Homo sapiens: one gene and its partner. The protein of the gene in region 1 interacts with the protein of each later gene in a pairwise test. Each region holds a gene or a part of one and is shown in the gene's direction. Other genes may lie near its edges. The genes, in order: SNX4 and PTPN5.

What was found.
Region 2: the proteins of SNX4 (region 1) and PTPN5 interact in a two-hybrid assay, tested with the Homo sapiens proteins (one large-scale study listed by BioGRID and IntAct).

Annotation. Positions count from the first base shown.
Region 1 is NC_000003.12:125,453,973-125,457,791, reverse strand, and holds part of SNX4 (sorting nexin-4), read left to right. Parts: intron 1-426; coding exon 427-526; intron 527-3,819. UniProt on the Homo sapiens protein: Involved in the regulation of endocytosis and in several stages of intracellular trafficking. Plays a role in recycling endocytosed transferrin receptor and prevent its degradation.
Region 2 is NC_000011.10:18,781,576-18,785,394, reverse strand, and holds part of PTPN5 (tyrosine-protein phosphatase non-receptor type 5), read left to right. Parts: intron 1-3,819. UniProt on the Homo sapiens protein: May regulate the activity of several effector molecules involved in synaptic plasticity and neuronal cell survival, including MAPKs, Src family kinases and NMDA receptors.

The DNA of each region.
Region 1 (3,819 bases):
CAGCCTGGCCAATATGGAGAATTCCCATCTCTACTAAAAATACAAAATTAGCTGGGTGTGGTGGCGCATGCCTGTAATCCCATCTACTAGGGAAGCTGAGGCAGGAGAATCATTTGAACCCGGGAGGCGGAGGTTGCAGTGAGCCGAGATCGCGCCATTGCACTCCAGCCTGGGCAACAAGAGCAAAACTCTGTCTCAAAAAAAAAAAAAAAAAAAAAAGAATATATGAAGTTTTTATGGTTAGGTTCTGCTAGATTCCATTAGATTCCATTTTTAATGTTGGGCTACTACATTTTAAACTTGAAAATTCTGGGCACACACATTCTGCCCTAGCGAGACATTGTGAATGGTTCTCCTCTACCCTTGAAAAAAATGTTTGACATGTTAAAGGAAAAGTTAAATGGCAGCACATTTTTTCATCTGTAGGGCTGTGTGCAGGAAACATGAACTTATGCAGTATGACTTGGAGATGGCTGCTCAGGACTTAGCATCCAAGAAGCAGCAGTGTGAGGAACTGGTAACTGGGGTGAGTATTTTCCTTTTGGCCTCTGATGATACTGTAGCAACACGGAATGTTCCTCACAAGCACTCACTCTGAGTGAGTAACTCACTCCTGTAGAATCAGTTCCAGTTACAATACTCAGGACGGCTGAACCTTTTACAGGGGAATAATTTGTGAGTAACTTTATAATTCTTTTATTATTATCTTGATACAAAATGATGTAAGCCATTAAAACCATGTACTGTATAGAATTATAAGAAATTTTGCCAACATTTCTCTGGTGTAATCAGTATCATCCGGTTTCGTTTTAAAAAAAAAAAAAATTATTGGGCTGGGCACGGTGGCTCACACCTGTAATCCCAGCACTTTGGGAGGCCAAGGCCAGTGGATCACCTGAGGTCAGGAGTTCGAGATTAGCCTGGCCAACATGGTGAAACCCGATCTCTACTAGAAATACAAAAATTAGCCAGGTGTGGTGCCTCACGCCTGTAGTCCCAGCTACTCGGGAAGGTGAGGCAGAAGAATTGCTTGAACCAGGGAATCGGAGGTTGCAGTGACCCGAGGTCACGCCACTGCACTCCAGCCTGGGTGACAGAGCAAGACTCCATCTCAAAAAAATTGTTTTTATTAATTTTTATTTTTTGAGACAAGGTCTGGTTCTGTTTCCCAGGCTGGAGTGCAGTGGTATGATCAGGGCTCATGGAAGCCTCAAACTCCTGGGATCAAGTGGTCTTCCTGCCTCAGCCTCTTGAGTAGTTGGGACCACAGGCATGTGCCCCCATGCCTGGCTAATTTTGTTTATAGTCTCATCATGTTGACCAGGGTGGTCTCAAACTCCTGGACTCAAGTGATCCTCCCACCTCCGCCTCCCAAAGTGCTAGGATTACAGGGGTAAGCCACCATGCCTAGTCTATCATCTGGTTTCTAAGTCCAAGTGAAAAAACATGCAGTGACCTTTATCAGGTTTAACTTTGCAAGGTACTTTGCAGAAATTTTAGTTGACTTTGAAAAGCCTTACCCACTTAGAACCAGTGCATCTCGCCTAACAGGGAGCTTTTGATGTACTTTATTCTTTAATGCTTACAGTGAGTACTTGTGAGGAAAATTCTGTACCTGATTGCATTAGTCTTGGATCATTTTTATAATCAGCTTTCTACTCCAGTTATTTCATTGCAATAAATCAGCCATCATGGTGAGCAACACACATTCTGAAAGTAGTAAACCAGCAGCAATGTCTCTACTTAGTTAATAAGCACTGTAGTTTTTGTTTGTTTGTTTGTTTGTTTTTAGACCGAGTTTCGCTCTGTTGCCCAGGTTAGAGTGTGGCTCACTGCAAGCTCCACCTCCTGGGTTCACACCATTCTCCTGCCTCAGCCTCCTGAATAGCTGGGACTACAGGCGCCTGCCACCACGCCCGACCAATTTTTTTTTTGCACTTTTAGTACAGACGGGGTTTCACCATGTTAGCCAAGATGGTCTGAATCTCCTGACCTCGTGATCCGCCCGCCTCGGCCACCCAAAGTGCTGGGATTATAGGCATGAGCCAGCGCGCCTGGCCAAGCACTATAGTTTTAAAAGTGCTTTTCACAGAGATTACCCACTGGCTACATCTGTGAAAAGTCACAGATATATGTGGGGAAAGACTTGTGACCAGGACACATGTATAAACTAGGCCCTTGGTTTATTTTTAAAACTCAGTGGGAGAAGTTCCCAGGCCATTTTCAGGGAGCTTGGTTCTCTATCCTACATGTCAAGGGAAAAGTGTTTTCTTCAGTAAACTCCAGAGAGTGAGGAAATGTTAAAGCAGTGAAGCTTGGGGTTGCCTTCCCATGCTTGGATTTAGGTATCCTGTTTTATTAATAGATGCCCAAGTTTGAGCGTTGAGTTATGCAGATTTTAAATATGCTTCTTTAGTTTGGTTTATTTCCATAGTTGCCTAGTGAATTTATCGACTTTTTTTATAACATAAAGTAATTTTTAAAATATCATTCATACAGAGTAAGAAATAACGTCTAATATTTCACGTGGAAGTTTTCCATTTGATTATGAAATTCAAGCCGGGTATGGTAGCTTACAATGGCAATCCCGACACCTTTAGCAGCAGAGGCGTAAACCCAGAATTGCTTGAGCCCAGGAATTTGAGACCAGTGTGGATTAATATAGCTAGACCCTGTCTTTACCAAAAATTTAAAAATTAGCTGGGTGTGGTGGCATGCACCTGTGGTCCCAGCCACTTGGGAGGCAGAGGTGGGAGGATCACTTGAGCCCAGGAGGTTGAGGCTGCAGTGAGCCATGATTGTGCCATTACATTCTAGCCTGGGCAACAGAGCAAGACCCCATTTCAAAAAAAAAAAGAAATTCAGTTAGAAGTGTCTTCTTTTTGACTACTCCATATTATTTCAGTGTTAGAAATTCTATTAGGATTCTTGGCTATGACTCTGTAAAAATAAATAAAAACTCATATAAGAGATCCCTGGTTGTGAAGCTTATGGTGGTTTTGTCTGACTTAGGGGAAATATGGCAAATGTTTTCTATTTCCTTTGTGTGTGTAGTGAAATATATATAACATAAAATGTACCATCTTGTCCATTTTTAAGTATATAGTTCAGTAGTGCAGTCATCCCTCAGTATCTTCAGTGAGATTGGTTTAAGGATCCCTGGGATACCAAAATCCTCAGATGCTTAAGTCCCTTCTATAAAATGGTGTAGTATTTGCATGTAACCTGTGCATATCCTTTTGTATACTTTAAATCAGCAGTCGCCAACCTTTTTGGCACTAGGGACCTGTTTTGTGGAAGACAGTTTTTCCATGGACCAGGGCAGGGGGTGCTGAGGATGATTTCGGGATGAAACTGTTTCATTTCAGATCATCTCAGGCATTAGATTTTCACAAGGAACACACAACCTGGATCCCTCACATGCGCAGTTCACAATAGGGTTCGTGCTCCTAAGAGAATCTAATGCCTCTGCTGCTGATCTGACAGGAGGCAGAGCTCAGGTGGTCGCTTGCCTCCTGCTATGCAGCCTGGTTCCAAACAGGCCATGGACTGGTATCACTCCGTGGCTCTGGGGTTGGGGACCCCCTGCTTTAAATTATCTCTAGATTATTAATACCTAATACAGTGTAAACACTGGTGTCTCATATAAGTGGAATCATACAGTATTTGTCTTTTTGTATCTGTCTTATTTCACTTAGCATAATGTCCTGCAGGTTTATCCATGTTGTAGCATATATCAGATTTGATTCCTTTTAAAGGCTGAATAATGTTCCATTGTATGTGTATGTGTATGCCGCATTTTGTTTATCCATTCATCTG
Region 2 (3,819 bases), on another chromosome or scaffold:
ATTTTGTCATGACTTCTCTGTTTATACTTGGTTGGCTGACCCCTGCTTTATTTAACTATGTCTTTATTGTTGCACATAGTCAATAATGAGCATCTCCAGGCACATAGCTTTTCCATCTCAGAGTCTCAAAGCATCCATCTGAAGCACCCTCAAGAGATATGATGGGATCAAGGTGGTTAAAGAGGGGTGCAAGGAAAAGAACATGTCGTGGCCCTGGCGTCTGGAGTAGAAAAAGAACAGGGAGCTTGGTGCAGTGGCTCATGCCTGTAATCCCAGCACTTTGGGAGGCTGAGGCAGGGGATCATTTGGGGTCAGGAGTTTGAGACCAGCCTGGCCAACACGGTGAAACTCTGTCCCTAGTAAAAATATAAAAATTAGCCAGGCATGGTGGCGCACACCTGCAGCCCCTCCTACTCAGGAGGCTGAGGCATGAGAATTGCTTGAACCCAGGAGGCAGAGGTTGCAGTGAGCCAAGATAGCGCCGCTGCACTCCAGCCTGGGTGACAGAGTGAGACCCTGTCTCAAAAAGAAAAAAAGAAAAAGAACAGGGAACCCAAGAGTTGGAACCAAGGAGAGGATGGAGAGGAAGATAGATCATGGGCCAGGGGGTCAAGGTCACAGAGCCCTAGGGGTGGCAGAGGGACATGCAGCTCTGTCAGATTTCAGAGGGAAGTCTGTCCTTCCAGTGTTTTGTTTGTTTGGTGTGGGAGGCTTTTATTAAATTGTGGTAAAATACACATAACACGAAATTTACCATTTTAACCAATGTTAACTGTATAATTTTGTGGCGTTAAGTATATTTACAGTGTTATACAACCATCACCACTGTCCATCTCCAGAATCTTTTTATCTTCCCAGACTGAATCGCTGTACTCATTAAATACTAATTCCTCATTCCCATCTCCCCCAGCCTCTGGTGACCTCCGTTCTACTTTCTGTCTCCATAAATTCACCTATTCTAGGTGCCTCGTGTAAGTGGCATCATGTTTGTCTTTTTTTGTCTGGCTTCTTTCACTTAGCCTAATGTTTTCAAGGGTCGTCTCTGTGGTATCATATATCAGAATCTCATTTATTTTCAAAGCTGAATATATTCCATTGTATGGATATACCACATTGTTTGGCCATTCATCTGTTTCCACCTTTTGGCTATTGTGAATAATACGGCTATGAACATTGGTGTGCCAGGATCTGTTTGAGCCCCCGCTTTCAATTCTTTGGGGTATATACCTCGCAGTGGAATTGCTGGATCGTATGATCATTCTGTGTTTCACTTTTTGAGAGGTGCAGGGTGCATTTTTTAAAAAGGATTTTTGTGTGCCCAGTATGAAGACCACTGAGTGAAGTCTTAGGAATAGAGAGTCCAGGAAGAAGCTGTTAATTTAAAAACTAAATGTTGTTTGGGTTCTGCATGGCCATGGAGGTAACAGAGAAGAGAGAAGAGGGAACAGAATACAAATGAGTCTGACTCCGTTTCTGAAGAATTGTTGTGATTTAGAGGCATTGTGGGTGGAAAAAGAAAGCTCTCAGGAGAGATCTTAGTGGGTGGAATTGATTCAAGCATGCAAGTATTTACTGTACCAGGCACTGTGGTGGACACAAGGCCCTCAGCAATCAACACGACCACAAGGACCCTGCCCGCAAGGAGCTTAATGTCTAGTGGAGGTGCCAGAGGAGTCACCTGGCAACAGTGGTCTGTACTGATGCATTCTAGGCTCATCATAAGCACTCACTCTTACTGAGTGCTTACTACATTATCTCAATCTTGGTGACAGTTCAGTGAAGACGGTTTCTGTTATCCTCAATTTGCAGGTGAGGAAACAGAGAGCTTGAGTAACTCTATTTCAGGTACGCACAGCAAGAGTCAGAGCCAGAATTTAAACCTAGGCAGTAACTGTGCTCTGTAGGGCTGTGGGAACACAGGAGAGACACCTGCCCAGGACGGAGGTCAGAGAAGGCTTTCCGAAGGCAGGGGTCAGGTGAGTATTTTCACGCAAGTCAGCTGTGTTCTTCTTTAGCCCATGATGTAAAACAGTGCTTTCCTATAGTAGCAGCAGTAGCGTTCAGCCCTGCTTCCAGGGACTCTAGACACTCAGGGAGACCCCTTCACTGAGACTCCACTTCAGAGGAAGATGATCACTTCTATCATCCTTGCTGCTTATCATGAGGCAGGGAGGCTGGGGGTGAGGCATTGCCATTTCCCACTGCCATCTGCTGCCTCTGCTACTTCCCTAGCTGGTCAGCATCTGAGGTACCTCAGAGGGACCTCCTGGGGCCCCTTCGGGGCAGCATCAGGCCAGTGGGCTAAGAGTTAGGCAAATACGAGGCCTAGGAGTGGCAGTGAAAATCATATATCCACCTTCTGTGCCACATCACTGTCCCAAGATACTCCCACCACCACAGAGCCCTGTCTTACCAAAGTACAGATGTGGCCAAGTCTCTGGTGTTTCCATCCTTCTGTGGCTCCCCATAGCTTGCAGCCGTATTTCTCAACAGGGACCTACTGGCCTTTGGGTGGGAGAGTTCTTTGATGTAAAAGCATCCCTGGCCCCATCTCCTATATATTTGCCTGGAGCACCCTTCAGTCATTATAACAACCAAAAATGCTCACACATGTTCTTCAGGTTTACTTTACAAGCAGTCCAATGTATAGATCTTAAGTGTTCTGTTCAGTGCATTTTGACAACTGCATGAGCTCATATAACCATCACCAAGAGCAAGACTCAGAAGATTTCCATCACCCGCAAAAGTTCAGAGATAACGATTATTCCAATTTCTATCATTGTAGATGGATTTTGTCTGTTCCTAATCGTCATATAAGTGGAATCATATAGTACATGCTCTTTTGTGTCATGAAATAGTTTTTAAGAAGCCAGACGCAGTGGCTCATACCTGTAACCCCAGCACTTTGGAAGGCCAAGACGGGTGGATCATCTGAGGTCAGGAGTTCGAGACCAGCCTAGCCAACATGGTGAAATCCCATCTCTACTAAAAATACAAAAATTAGCTGGGCATGGTGGTACACACCTGTAGTCCCAGCTACTCGGGAGGCTGAGGCAGGAGAATCCCTGGAACCTGGGAGGTGGAGGTTGCAGTGAGCCAAGATCATGCCACTGCACTCAAGCCTGGGTGACAGAACGAGACTCCATCTCCAAAAAAAAAAAAAGACATAGTTTTTGAGATCCATCCACGTTGTCACGTTTTCCCCACTAACCCCCAATACACACACAGATTTCTAAATGCCAACTAGCATGGCAATACCTGCCTCTGTCCCCCTGAGAAAAAATGGCCTGTGAGTCAAAGTTAGTGTGTCTTAGGCTGATTCATGAAGCCGTCTGCTGTGTGACAAGAGTCCCTCTTACGTCTACTCTGTGGCTACACTGAGCTGCCTCGTCTGCCTGGCATACCTTGTGCTTTCACCTCTCCGGGCCTTTGCCCTGCAGTGTTCCCTGCCTGGAATGTCCTCCCTGTATCTGGTGAACTCCTGCTTGTCCTTCGGGTCTCTTCTGTGCAGCTTCCCAGACTCTGTTTTTGTGCCCTCCTGAGTGCTCCCATAAGACAGCCTCAGTGGGCCTTTAATGCATTTCTCACTCAACTCACTAGGCCGAATGCTGGGTGGAGGGCAGGGACTGGCTCTTAGTTATCTGTGTGTCCCCCAAGGCTCAGTACAGAGCCTGATATTAAAGAAATTGATATAAGATTATAGTAAGATTATCTTAGAGACAAACTGGGTTTAAAATACAAAATATATTCTGAACCACCCCCTGGAGCTAATAAAGTTGGAGCTGGGCATGGTGGCTCATGGCTGTAATCCCAGCACCA